Linked DNA regions of Homo sapiens. The protein of the gene in region 2 purifies or fractionates together with the protein of the main gene of each other region. This does not show direct contact. Each region holds a gene or a part of one and is shown on either strand. Other genes may lie near its edges.

Region 1 (2,322 bases), on a different chromosome or scaffold from region 2:
TCCTTACCCATTAAACTTTCCAGCTCCTACTGGATAACTGGAAGGATTGGAGAGATTCAGGAATGAAATCTCTAGCTACCAAGCTCAAGTCTGGGCCATCCTTCCTTCTCGGGCCTTGTGACAGTTCATGTGAGTTTGGATTAAAGCAGCCAGGAACCCAGGCAACTATTGTCTTCAGTCTAATTTTTTTCTTCTTGCTTCTTCTTTACAGGCAAAGAAGAGGAAAAGAGCAGAGCGCTTTGGGATTGCCTGATGAAAAGTTCCTGATACTTTCTGTTCTCCAGTGTTTTCCATTTCTCTCCTTCTTCTTGGTCACATATATGCCTAAATGCACAGTCATGTGCCTACGTCCTGCCTCGCAATGAGGGAGCATGTACCCCAGGTACATCCATGAACTGCGGCAGCAGTTTGACTTATTGCTGTTTCAGCTTTAAGGTTGTTGTGTTTTTGTTTTTGATTATGTTGCTTGTTAATAAAAAAAAATAGAAAAGAGAACAATGTGTTTTATTAGGTGCTCCTTTGATTTATTGGAGCTAGATTAGACCAGATAAGGGGAGCTTCAGGGGCAAATATTATAGAGAATTGGCCATAATACCTTTATCCCTTAGAAGAGAAGACAAGGAAAAGGACTGAGTTTACCCTTTAAGCCTGTTTATTCCCTTCTGTCATACTCACAAGCATTTTTTATCCTCTGTGAAGAGGTTAAGTTACCCACCCACCAAGTCTTTGCTCCAGCAGCTTGTAGTGACCCACTGAAATAAAACAGAACATGGGAGGTTTTAGGTGTTGCAAAGGATATAAATACAAGGGCAGTGATTAGTAGCCTTCTGTTATTAGCTAATAATGCAGACTTTTTCTTGGATAAAATGGAGTCCAGGGTCCCACATTAAAGGAAAAGGGCCCTGATTTCAAGGGTGATGTGATACGATACTATGTTGGTCAGTCAGTTCAGGAAGGGAGATGGGCTGGATATCCCTCAGAGACAGAAGAAATTTTGTATGCAGAATCAAAGCATGACAGAGGATGTCAGAGCTGTTACGCATTGTTAGCTAAATCATTGGGAACATAAGCAGTGGAACTGGAGGCTTCAAGTTCATGTAGATCTGAAACCTGCTTAATCTTTTTGGATATGTTATTGCAGAATTTCTCCTCTTAATCTTTATATAAGCTCGGTTTTTGTTTGAGCTATTTTTGGTAATAAGACTTAGGAGCCTGACACCTTACCTGAAGACTTTGGTACTATGATCAGGTCCCATGTTGCTGTGGTGTAATCCTTTATCCTTATTTCTACTAAAACCTGCCTGGTTTTGTGCTTAATGAAATGGTAATAGTTTGATCACCTTTCTAATGTCAAGATATCTCTTTATTTCTCCAAAGTCTCTGGTTGGTGAGGAAAGCAGGGACCTAAAGTTTAGATAATTTAGAAAAATTGTGCCTTGGAGAGCAGATCCAAAAACTGCTGCCCATTTGTTGTGAAGTTTGCCCCATTCTGAGACTTTGGAGAAGTGAACAAAAGGGAATGCTGGTTAAATTTTTGACACCTCTTCAACCAAATAAACCTTAAAATTGGAATGACCTTCCCTTTTCCCTCTTTTCTGTCTGCCTTCCTTTTCTTTACCTCAGGCTCTGATCTTGGGGCTAGCTTTTCCTCTCTCTACTCTGCCTTCATCTGAAAACAGAATAGATCTGATTTGTAACTTGAGAGATTATAGATTCACTAATGGTTTCTTCCTGAATATGGTTTTAAAAAGAGAAAAATACATGAGGGAATAGAGCAGATGCTGATTATGAAGTGGAACAGTGGATCTTTTGGAAGTTTTCTTCGTCTCTTTATCCTCTATAACCTTCCAGAAAGATATTCAGCCTTACTTGCCAGGATTCTCTTCTTGAAGCCTAATTATTCTCCTCACTCATCTTACTTCCCCTAGATCTTTGAACAGTGTTTTCCAATTTGTGAGGATTTTTTTTTTTTTCTTATTAACCTCTTTCATCCCATTTCAGCAGCTGTTCCTATGTTGGTCAGAAGTCTCTAACCTCCAAGCCAGATGAAGTCCTCCCCTTCCTATCTCATTATAGTCATTCTCCACATACTCTTTGAGCATGAATAGTTCAGGATGCCTTTTTCCCAATTCAGTTTTAAAATAGTAATTCCGTTTGGAGATGGAACAGACATTGAGGCTTGTAATTGTTTACCTGAGATCTTAGTACCCTTCCTTCCTCTCCCCGTTTCCCTACTATAGTTGATCCAGCATCCAGATGTGGTTAACTGATTCCAATTCCTGAAGCTGTGACATTCTCTGCATACCTGGAAGCTCTTAATGA
Region 2 (3,500 bases):
GATTTGGCAGCCAGGTGTGGTGGGCTCAGGCCTGTAATCCTACCACTTTGGGAGGCCAAGGTGAGTGGATCACTTGAGGTCAAAAGAGTTTGAGATCAGCCTGGCCAACATGGTGAAAACCCATCTCTATCAAAAAATACACAAATTAGCGGGCATGATGGCATGCACCTGTAGTCCCAGCTACTCAAGGAGGCTGAGGAGGGAGAATTGCTTGAGCCTGGGAGGTGGAAGTTATAGTGAGCTGATATTGCGCCACTGCACTCCAGCTTGGGTGAGAGTGAAACCCTGTCTCAAAGTATGTATATATGATTTTGCAACTTCATTCAACTGGATCCAGCCCTTAGCCAGGTCCTATCAGGAACATAAGAAGAACTCCTACAAATATAGAACAGCACTCTTGCTTGATGCCCAGCTAAGGAAAGACCTGTCGTGATGCCATCTAATTTTTATTTTCAGACGCAGAAGAAACATGTCCTTCATTCACCAGGCTGAGCTTTCACAGTGCAGTGGTTGGTACGGGACTAAATGTGAGGCTGATGCTCTACACAAGGAAAAACCTGACCTGCGCACAAACCATCAACTCCTCAGCTTTTGGGAACTTGAATGTGACCAAGAAAACCACCTTCATTGTCCATGGATTCAGGCCAACAGGCTCCCCTCCTGTTTGGATGGATGACTTAGTAAAGGGTTTGCTCTCTGTTGAAGACATGAACGTAGTTGTTGTTGATTGGAATCGAGGAGCTACAACTTTAATATATACCCATGCCTCTAGTAAGACCAGAAAAGTAGCCATGGTCTTGAAGGAATTTATTGACCAGATGTTGGTAAGAGAATTCTCTTAGATGATTCAGAGCTAAGTTGAAACTGGCCCATTATCTGAGGGCTTAAAGCCAAGAGATAGCTACAGTGAGCAGGAGGCCTATATTGCAACATTTTGCAAATGTGAATAAGCCCCAGGGAAGGTGGGATGAGGGGCTGTGCAAAATGTCCATAGGTATGTTTGTTAGGCTGTGCACTGCACAGGGCACCCATCTGAGGGAGCACCCTTGTCATTGTGACATTATAGATTTATATATTTATTATGATAAATTTCCACCAGATGATGACAAAGTGTCTTGAGGAAGGGGCATTTTTTTCTAGCTCACAATAAAGGTGTCTTACAGGTAGGAGAGGTTCTGTCTAGGATTTCTTGGTTTAAATGCCTAGAGCTTCCTCAACTTCTTTTTTTTTTTTTGAGACGGAATCTCGTTCTGTCACCAGGCTGGAGTGCAGTGGTGTGATTTCAGCTCACCGCAACCTTTGCCTACCGGGTTCAAGCGATTCTCTTGCCTCAGCCCCCCGAGTAGCTGGGACTACAGGTACACGCCACCATGCCCAGCTAATTTTTGTATTTTTAGTAGAGACGGGGTTTCACCATGTTGGCCAGGATGGTCTTGATCTCCTGACCTCGTGATCCACCTGCCTTGGCCTTCCAAAGTGCTGGGATTACAGGCGTGAGCCACTGCGCCCGGCTAATTTTGTATTTTTAGTAAAGACGGGGTTTCTCCATGTTGGTCAGGCTGGCCTCGAACTCCCGACCTCAGGTGATCTGCCCGCCTCGGCCTCCCACGGGGCTGGGATTACAAGCGTGGGCCACTGGGCCCAGCAGACAGACTATTTTGAATCCTGCTCTGCTCTCTCCCCAGCTGCCTGATCTGGGGCAGATGACTTCAGCTTAGGGCCTCAGTTTCCTCATCTGCATAATCAAAAGAATAGTATTTACTTTGCATGGATGTTGTGACTTTTAAATGAGATAATAGATGTAAGGTGCTTAGAATTACTTCTCCAAAGTCAACAGCCAGGAAATTTCTACAAATGTTAATTCCTTGGCCCCTTACAATTTACAATGATGGACCTCTTGAAATTCCAGGCAGAAGGAGCTTCTCTTGATGACATTTACATGATCGGAGTAAGTCTAGGAGCCCACATATCTGGGTTTGTTGGAGAGATGTACGATGGATGGCTGGGGAGAATTACAGGTAAGTGCCTGTGAATGGGCATGGGTTGGTAGCCTGGGCAGGGTGTTCACTGGGGGAGTATTATGTAGGCCAATCCAACTCCTTGGGTTCAAAGCCAGCTCCAATTACCTAACCTCTCTGAGTGTGGGTCATTGCATGCAAAAGGAAGATCAAAATAATATTGACCTCAGGCTATTATGTAATAAAACATAAGTAAAGCATTTTGTAAATTGTGTATACTATAGAAAAGATGAGTAGTGACTTTATTTCTATTATGGCTGGAAAAACAGCTATGTCCCATTCAAATCTGTGTGCCGCAAACAGTTAGTCCTCTTCCTTTTATTTAATCCAGGAGACCCTGAACTATAAACCTAATACGCTTCAGTCCCCAGGCACAGCTGGAGTCTCATAAGAAAACGAGATGGGAATTTTGATGGCTGGGGCTTATTCTCTAAATATCAGCTTTCGGGCCAACACTGAATGAAAACCTTCAGAAATGCAGTAGGTCAGATCCCAAACAAAGACTCCTTTGCTGGAATCTCCTGCCTAGGGCTTAGTAGCTTTCCACAGCGGCTCTCTCTTTCAGAGTCTCAAAGCCTCTCCCATTTCTCCTTTCCCAGAATCCATCCTCATACCTAGATGGCTATTTTAAATCTATGGAAACTGAAAAGGTAGAAGTGGATGGAAAAAGGGGAGAGGTAAATGATTAAAACTACATTTAGGAGGTAAACTTTTAGGGCCACAAGTTTTTAATTTTATTTTTAATTTAAATTTTATTTTATTTTATTATTTATTTATTTTTGAGAAAGAGTCTCACTCTGTCACCCAGGCTGGAGTGCAGTGGTGCAATCTCGGGTCACTGCAACCTCCACCTCCCGGGTTCAAGCGATTCTCCTGCCTCAGCCTCCTCAGGAGCTGGGATTACAGGCATGCGCCACCACTCTTGGCTAATTTTTGTATTTTTAGTAGAGACATTGTTTCGCCATGTTGGCCAGGCTGGTCTCGAACTCCTGACCTCAGGTGATCCACCCATCTCGGCCTCCCAAAGTGCTGGGATTACAGGCATGAGCCACTGCACATAGCCTTTTTTTTTTTGACAGGGTCTCGCTGTGTTGCCCAGGCTGGCATGCAGCTCACTGCAGCCTCAACGCCCCCCCAGGCACAAGCAGTCCTCCACTCAGCCTCTCAAGTAGCTGGGACTACAGGTGTGTGCCACCACACCTGCTTAATTTTTAATTTTTTTGTAGAGATGGAGTCTTACCATGTTGCCCAGGCTGGTCTTGAACTCCTGGGCTCAAGCAATCCTCTCACTTCAGCCTCCCAAAGTGCTGGGATTACAGGTATGAGCCACTGTGCCCGGCCTCATGTTGTATTTCTGTTGGACAGCACTTCCTTCAAGAGTTTATGTTGATCTCGGGTATGGAAGTAAGAGGCCGTGAAGTTGCATGCAAAATGTTGGGTGTCTGTCCTGGGGAGGGGTCCAGAATTTTCATCAAATTCTCA
Region 3 (3,500 bases), on a different chromosome or scaffold from region 2:
AAGAATGTCAAGTGAGAAAATAGAATTAGCAACTACAGACAACTCTTTCAACAAGTTATGCTGTAAAATAAAAACCACAAAAATCTGCATGGCAAAACACCACCAGAAAAGACACAAATGGCAAAATGGGGTGGAAAGTATTTACAACTCTTATTGCAGGCAAAGATTTTAATTCCCTAATATATGAATGGGGTTCTATAAATCATTAAGAAAAAGAACCACAATAAGAACAAAAAAAGGACAGAGATGTCAACAGGCAGTTGACACAAAAGGAAATATAAATGGCCTTTAAAGATGCTTAATTTCATGCATATTAAGGAAAATGAATATTAAAACTACATTGGGATACCACTTTTCACCTAGCAGGCTAGAAGAAAACAATTTCCATACTCTTATACATTGCTGGTAGAAGCATACATTAGCCCCCCTGTCATCCACCTATTGTGTAAATGTTAGCTATATCTATTGAAATTACAAATATGTCTATGCTTTCACCCAACAATTCCACTTCTAAAAAGATTCCTATAGATATATTTGCATACAAATGAAATTATGTATGTTCAAAGTTATTCATTATAGCAGTTTAAGAGCAAAAAACTAGAAACAACCTCCTCTATTAATCAGAGGCTGGTTAAATAAACTATTGCATATCTATCTAATGGAATTCTAGATATCTATTTTTTTTTTAAACTGAGAAAGCTTTCTAGGTCTTAACATGGAAAGGTCTCCAAAATACACTGGGAATTGAAAAAAGCAAGTTGCAGAAAAATGTATGTATACTATGCCATCATTTGGAAAATAGTGAGGGACAAGAAAATATATCTAATATTGGTTCATAAATGAGTAATATGCATTGAATGATAAACTTGTTTAGGAGAACACAGACATTAAACAGATCAGGGATGGAACTGGAAGGAGGTTTTTACTATACAAATTTGTATACATTTTGTCTTCAAACCATGTGACTGTGTAACATTCAAATTTTTTTAAAGTGTAAATGTGAAGGAAACAGAAAAATGCTACAATAAATGAAATGGGATTCAGAGTTGGGAAGTTTTTTTCTATGGTAACAAGATTCTAGATCAACAACTTAATGTCTAATAAAAGAAAAATTAGTGTAAATTGTCATAAAGCTAGTACTAAATATATTATTTTAGAGTACTGAAATCTTGATTAATTAAAACCCATGAAACTAGAATCCTATTTAAATTGGAGAATAAAGCAATAAATTAAAGCCATGATCCAGAATTTTAAAATATATTAATTAAAAGCACGTTTAGTTTCTGGTTCAATATCCTAGACACATCCTTCGGGGCTATTATGTTATCCTGCCAAATTAGGAATAAGATTCACAATTATTCATTTTTAAAAATCACTTATGTTCATTATATTCTTGTGAACAAGACAAAAGGTTGGACTAGCCTTGTTTTTAAAGCTTAACTGGCAAGGAACAATTCATTTCCCAAGAAGCCTAGTTAACCAAAGTTTACTAACTTTAAATACTCTGGCATAATCAAACATATTTTTCATATAAAGGCAGCACAAATACACTAATAGACAAATCTTCTTACTTAATGAGGCTACAGCACACAGCTCGTAGGGGTTCATGATCTTTCTTCCTTATATTATTGTTGACCATACTATCTAGTTCATCCCGAGCAAACCGAAGCTGAACTTCTGTTACACTGTAACTTGCTGATTCCCGAGCACAGTCCTCGATGTTATGAGCTTCATCTAAAATGACAACCTGTTCTTTCAGATTTAAATCCATCTATAAGATAAAAGAATTTTCTTGTAAAACATTTGGCAAAATAGATTTAACAACAGCAGGCAAGATATTTCATTTTAAAATTCACACTATAGGCCAATATTGCAAATGCAATTACATAAGCAACAGAGATTCTAGGTCTTAAATAAAACTTCTGAAGCACTATGGCCAACCAAATATCAGCTCTACATTATTGTGTTTGCCATTTTTTTACTCTTAAAATACTTTGCAAACCTATCGACAGCAACAAAAATATGTCAGTGAGTCTGGATCAAGGTACCACAGGCTACACAGAAAGGTATAAAATCCCACTATGAAAGTGTTTCCAACATAATTTTACAAACTAATTATAAGACCTTTAAAAATAAAATAACAATATAAGATTAAAAGCATAAGACCTTTAAAAGTAAAATAACAATACAAGATTAAAAGCATAAAACCTTTAAAAGTAAAATAACAATACAAGATTAAAATGACTCTTAAAATACTAACATAATATATATGTTTTGTTTTAATCTGTCCTGCAATCCTTCTCCAACATGGGAGTTGGAGAATTGTTCTTCTCCAACTCCCATGTGATGCTGGCAGGACTATTAACCTGTGAATCAAAGGACATCACCACTTTCACAATGGGGGTAAGGCCCAGGATTGTCAGTTAAATAGAGTATTCCATCCTTCTGTGGTCACAGTGACTGGTTCAGGTTCAGGAACAGACATGTGATCCACGGTAGGCCAACCAGAGTAATTTGGAGGGACTAATATGTGGCCATGCTCTTTTCTCCAGGTGAGCTAGCTGCTTATGGTTATCTTTGTTCCATAAGCAAGAGTGAGAACTTGCCTGAGAATAAAGCCATCACAATAAAGAGAATCAAGTATTTTTTCTTAAGCATTTTTTAGGGTAGGTTTGTGTCACTTGCAATAGAAAGAGTACTGACTAATACAAGGAACTGTCACAAAGCAATTGTCAATGAGTTATTTTGAGGAAGTAAGAATACACAGACAGCTGAAAAGTTGAGAAAAAACCATGGAAGAGTAGGAAATATATTGGGGTTTAAAAGATAAGTAGGATTTGGATTTGGACAGACAAAGAGTGGACAGGGCATTCCAAAGAGGTGTCATCAAAAGCAAAGATAGAGTAAAGAACAAGGTATCCTCAAGGGAGTATGAGGTAATTTTTGAAGGATTCAAATTGGGCAGATCCAGGTCAGACTATTGAGCATCTTGAGTGTAAGCTTAAGAAATATGAACTTTATCTCATGAGCAAAGGAAGCAATAGATTTTTAGGCAGATAAAAGGATGTAATAAAAGCAATATTTGGAAAACTGACCTGGCATTGATATGCACAGTGTCTCAGAAGGAAGAGATCTAGTTAAGAGATAACCAAATAAGAGGTAGGATAGAAGGGGTAGTAAACATAATGCCTATTAATTTGGATCTTAAAGAAATAGAAAGCTGAGATGAATTGTGCAGTCAGATCTGAAGACAGGAATAACAATTGACTATGCCAAATTATTCACTTTTTGTCTTATGCTGTTAACAATTGCATGTCTCTAAAAAGAACCAGGCAAACAAACACAAATGCCATTATCTGAAGTTCACTTCTCAAAGCTCACAAGGCATAATTTTATTCCCCCACATAAGTTCTTCAAAACATAGTTTTTTCAGAGAAATGTTTCTAAATAATTCTTTTTGAATATTCATAAATGCAAAGAGAAATCCTGCTGTAATCCCA
Region 4 (3,500 bases), on a different chromosome or scaffold from region 2:
GTTTCTGTCAGATTCAGACCAAGTCTGTGCACACCAAAATTAGGTGTAGTGTGGGTGGGAGACACTTCAGAGACTCAGGCATGATGCTGAGGCCTCTTGAGCCCCTCTCATAGGATTCTACGAAATTTTCCTTCTTTTTAAAAAAATAGTAATTTAGATACTGAATAAAAACAAAAGTAGTATAGACTTGCTGTTAAAAAATTCAAAGAATCATATATAGCCAGGTTGCCAACCTTCTCTGCTTCTGTTTCTTGAAGTAACCAAGGCTGACACTCAGGTGTGTTTCCTTCCACTATTCTCTATGCTAACACAGGTGTGTATATGTGCACTTATGAGAGCTTTAAAAGTAAAGAATGGGGTTATACTGTACACATTTCTCTGTGTTACGCAGTGGTTAAGAATGTGGGCTCAGCTTTTCACTGATGAGTTGTATGACCTTGGACAAGCTAGTTAACCCCTCTGCATCTATGTCTTCTTAGTTATATAATGGTCAAAATATTAGTGTCTACCTCATAAAATTTTTTTTTTTGAGGAGTAAATAACTTAATTGTCCAGGCGCAGTGGCTCACACCTGTAGTCCTAGCAATTAGGGAGGGTGAGGTGGGCGGATTGCTTGAGGCCGGGAGTTTGAGACCAGCCTGGGCAACATGGTGAAACCATCTCTAAAAAAAAATATGAAAATTAGCCAGGAGTGGTGGTGCGTGCCTGTAATCCCGTTACTTGAGCCCGGGTGTGTGTGTGGGGGGGGATGTTGAGGCTGCAGTGAGCTGCGATTGCACCACTGTACTCCAGCCTGGGTGACAGAATGAGATCCTGTCACACACACACACACACACACACACACACACACGCACAATAACTTAATATACGTAAAATATTTAGACCAATACCAGGCACATTGTAAACACTTTTTTTAGTGTTAACTTTTATTATTAAGAGACTTCTCTTTAAATCCTTACATTCAGAATGAATTCCTGCTTTTTAACAGCTGATAACATTCCACAGTGTAGATATATGTTATGTCAAAGTCAAACAAAAATATAGATTCGAATCTCTATGTAAAACATTTTACTTGGGAAAATATATAAAAACTACATTGCAATTCAAGGCATACACACAGATGGGATGGTCTTTGGTGTGTCTGAAGAACAAATAAAATGTTGGGGGTTTTATTAGAAAGAGAAATGTTACATATTGTTATGAAAGAAAACTCATTGGCACTAGCAAAGTTCTGGGAGCTAGCAAGCTGTAATTGGTGAGTGATGGCAATAGGTAAAACTAGCCTTAGAGGCAAGGCAGGTCATTTCGGCAGCTGGCTTGTGATAGAATTCTTGGGTAGGCATTTGTGTCCTGAGTGCTTTTCTTTTCCTCTCCCTGGTTCTCGGCTCTAATTTACTTGGGTAATAACAGATAATGCCAATTCATATAATCAATTTTCACATATAATTTACTCAGAACAAATTGTGATGCCAGTTTTGATGTCTTCATATTGTGATATGTATGCTATTGTTTAAGAATGAAGTGGAGCCAGCTGCAGTGGCTTGGGCCTGTACTCCTAGAACTTTGGGAGGCTGAGATGGGAGGATCGCTTGAGTCCAGGAGTTCGAGACCAGCTTGAGCAACATAGCAAGAGCCCTGTCTCCACAAAATTAAAAAACCATTAGCTAGGTATGCTGGCGTGCGCCTGTAGTTCCAGCTACTTGGGAGGCTGAGGCAGAAGGATTACTTGAGCCTGGGAGTTTGAAGCTGCAGTGAGCTATGATCCTGCCACTGCACTCCAGCCTGGGTGATAGAGCAAGACCCTGTGTCTCCGTGTCAAAAAAAAAAAAAAAAAAAAAAAAAAAAAAAAAAAGAATGAAGTGGAGGGGATGGGAATCATTGTTCTTTTTTTTTTTTTTGAAACAGAGTTTTGCTCTTGTTGCCCAGGCTGGAGTGCAGTGGCACTGTCTCGGCTCACTGCAACCTCCACCTCCTGGGTTCAAGAGATTCTCCTGCCTCAGCCTCCCAAGTAGCTGGGATTACAGGCACCCGCCACCACACCTGGCTAATTTTCATATTTTTAGTAGAGATGGGGTTTCACCATGTTGCCCAGGCTGGTTTAGAACTCCTGACCTCAGGTGATCTGCCCACTTTGGCCTCCCAAAGTGCTAAGATTACAGACATGAGCCATTGCATCCAACTGGGAATCATTGTTCTAAAAAGCTGTTGTTGGAGAATTATGAAATTCTGCCAAAGGTTGCATTTACAAGTATTTTCTTTATGCTGTTTAAAAGATTATTGGCTTTTCTGACTAGTGCCTTAAAGCTGGAGTTGGATATATCAAAGTGCTGTTGCATGATTATTTATGATTTCATTTTACTGCAGCGTAAATTTTTATAATGTCAGCATTTAAGAAATATTATTCCTGTCAACTTTACCAAGCCCTGAGTGGCTTCTTATATATTACTTTTCAGCATATTTGCTAATTTCCTCAAGCAGTGCTAGATATTCACTTTGGAATTTGCCTTTTGATGTCTCTTCTGTGATGAGCAGCCACCAAATAGCCCCCACCACATTCTAATTCTTTATTGCAAAAAGTAAAATATGGAGCACTGCATCTGAAAACCACTGTGCGAGACAATCTCATTTTTACTTTCTTTCTGCTTAAATATGCAATAAATATGTCTTCTGATAAATACAGTTCTAAAATAAAATAGTTTTGTGTAACATCTTGGAGTAAAAAAGAGAAAGAAATTTTTTTTTTTTTTAGACAGAATCTTGCTTTGTTGCCCAGGCTGGAGTGCAGTGGCACCACCTCGGCTCACTGCAACCTCTGCCTCCCGGGTCAAGCTATTCTCCTGCCTCAGCCTGCCAAGTAGCTGGGATTACGGCACCTGCCATCATGCCCGGCTAATTTTTTGTGTTTTTAGTAGAGACGGAGTTTCACCATGTTGGCCAGGCTGGTCTCGAACTCCTGACCTCGTGATCTGCCCACCTCGGCCCACCAAAGCACTGGGATTACAGGCATGAGCCGCCGCGTCCCACCAAGAAAAATTTAAATGTACGCAATGATTTTGGTGTGCTGCCGTGTCCCTGGGCACTACCTTCCTAGGCATTGCCAACCTTGTGGCTCCAGCCACAAACATTGTGACTCTGCCAGAGGGCTTGCTCTGGCAATGGAGCCTACTTGGCAGCAAATCAGCAGGCAGTAAGTGTCAGGGAGTAAATGCCCTTTGGATGACAATAATGAGTGGAAGTGGGAAGCTAAATTCTCCAGGTCCTTCACCCCTCATGTGAGATAACTCTAAGAAGTTTTATATTATCTCCCAGGGTTCCCCAGTGGGATCATTTGCAGTTACCCATGGCAGTAACTTGTTTGATAATGTACCTTTTATAGCTTTGGTTCTCATTCTGCTAAGGTGCCACCTGGGATTACCTCCCAAATTAGCCACTTTGTTTCAATTTTTTTTTTTTTTTTTTTTTTTTTTGAGATAGAGTCTCTCTCTGTCACCCAGGCTGGA

What was found. Proteins that work in one complex are often made in the same cells at the same time.
Region 1: the proteins of LIPH (region 2) and GDF11 purify together in Homo sapiens (affinity purification with mass spectrometry; 3 studies listed by BioGRID and IntAct, with this or other methods). This does not show direct contact.
Region 3: the proteins of LIPH (region 2) and BRIP1 purify together in Homo sapiens (affinity purification with mass spectrometry; 3 studies listed by BioGRID and IntAct, with this or other methods). This does not show direct contact.
Region 4: the proteins of LIPH (region 2) and DNAJC12 purify together in Homo sapiens (affinity purification with mass spectrometry; 3 studies listed by BioGRID and IntAct, with this or other methods). This does not show direct contact.

The regions. Positions count from the first base shown.
Region 1 is NC_000012.12:55,755,443-55,757,764, reverse strand, and holds the end of GDF11 (growth/differentiation factor 11 preproprotein), read right to left. Parts: 3' UTR 501-2,322; downstream 1-500. Other genes in the region: SARNP (SAP domain-containing ribonucleoprotein), read left to right, coding at 212-253. UniProt on the Homo sapiens protein: Secreted signal that acts globally to regulate anterior/posterior axial patterning during development. May play critical roles in patterning both mesodermal and neural tissues. It is required for proper vertebral patterning and orofacial development.
Region 2 is NC_000003.12:185,532,089-185,535,588, reverse strand, and holds part of LIPH (lipase member H isoform 1 precursor), read left to right. Parts: intron 1-456; coding exon 457-824; intron 825-1,909; coding exon 1,910-2,018; intron 2,019-3,500.
Region 3 is NC_000017.11:61,797,529-61,801,028, forward strand, and holds part of BRIP1 (Fanconi anemia group J protein), read right to left. Parts: intron 1,772-3,500; coding exon 1,572-1,771; intron 1-1,571. UniProt on the Homo sapiens protein: DNA-dependent ATPase and 5'-3' DNA helicase required for the maintenance of chromosomal stability. Acts late in the Fanconi anemia pathway, after FANCD2 ubiquitination.
Region 4 is NC_000010.11:67,800,189-67,803,688, reverse strand, and holds part of DNAJC12 (dnaJ homolog subfamily C member 12), read left to right. Parts: intron 1-3,500. UniProt on the Homo sapiens protein: Probable co-chaperone that participates in the proper folding of biopterin-dependent aromatic amino acid hydroxylases, which include phenylalanine-4-hydroxylase (PAH), tyrosine 3-monooxygenase (TH) and peripheral and neuronal tryptophan hydroxylases (TPH1 and TPH2).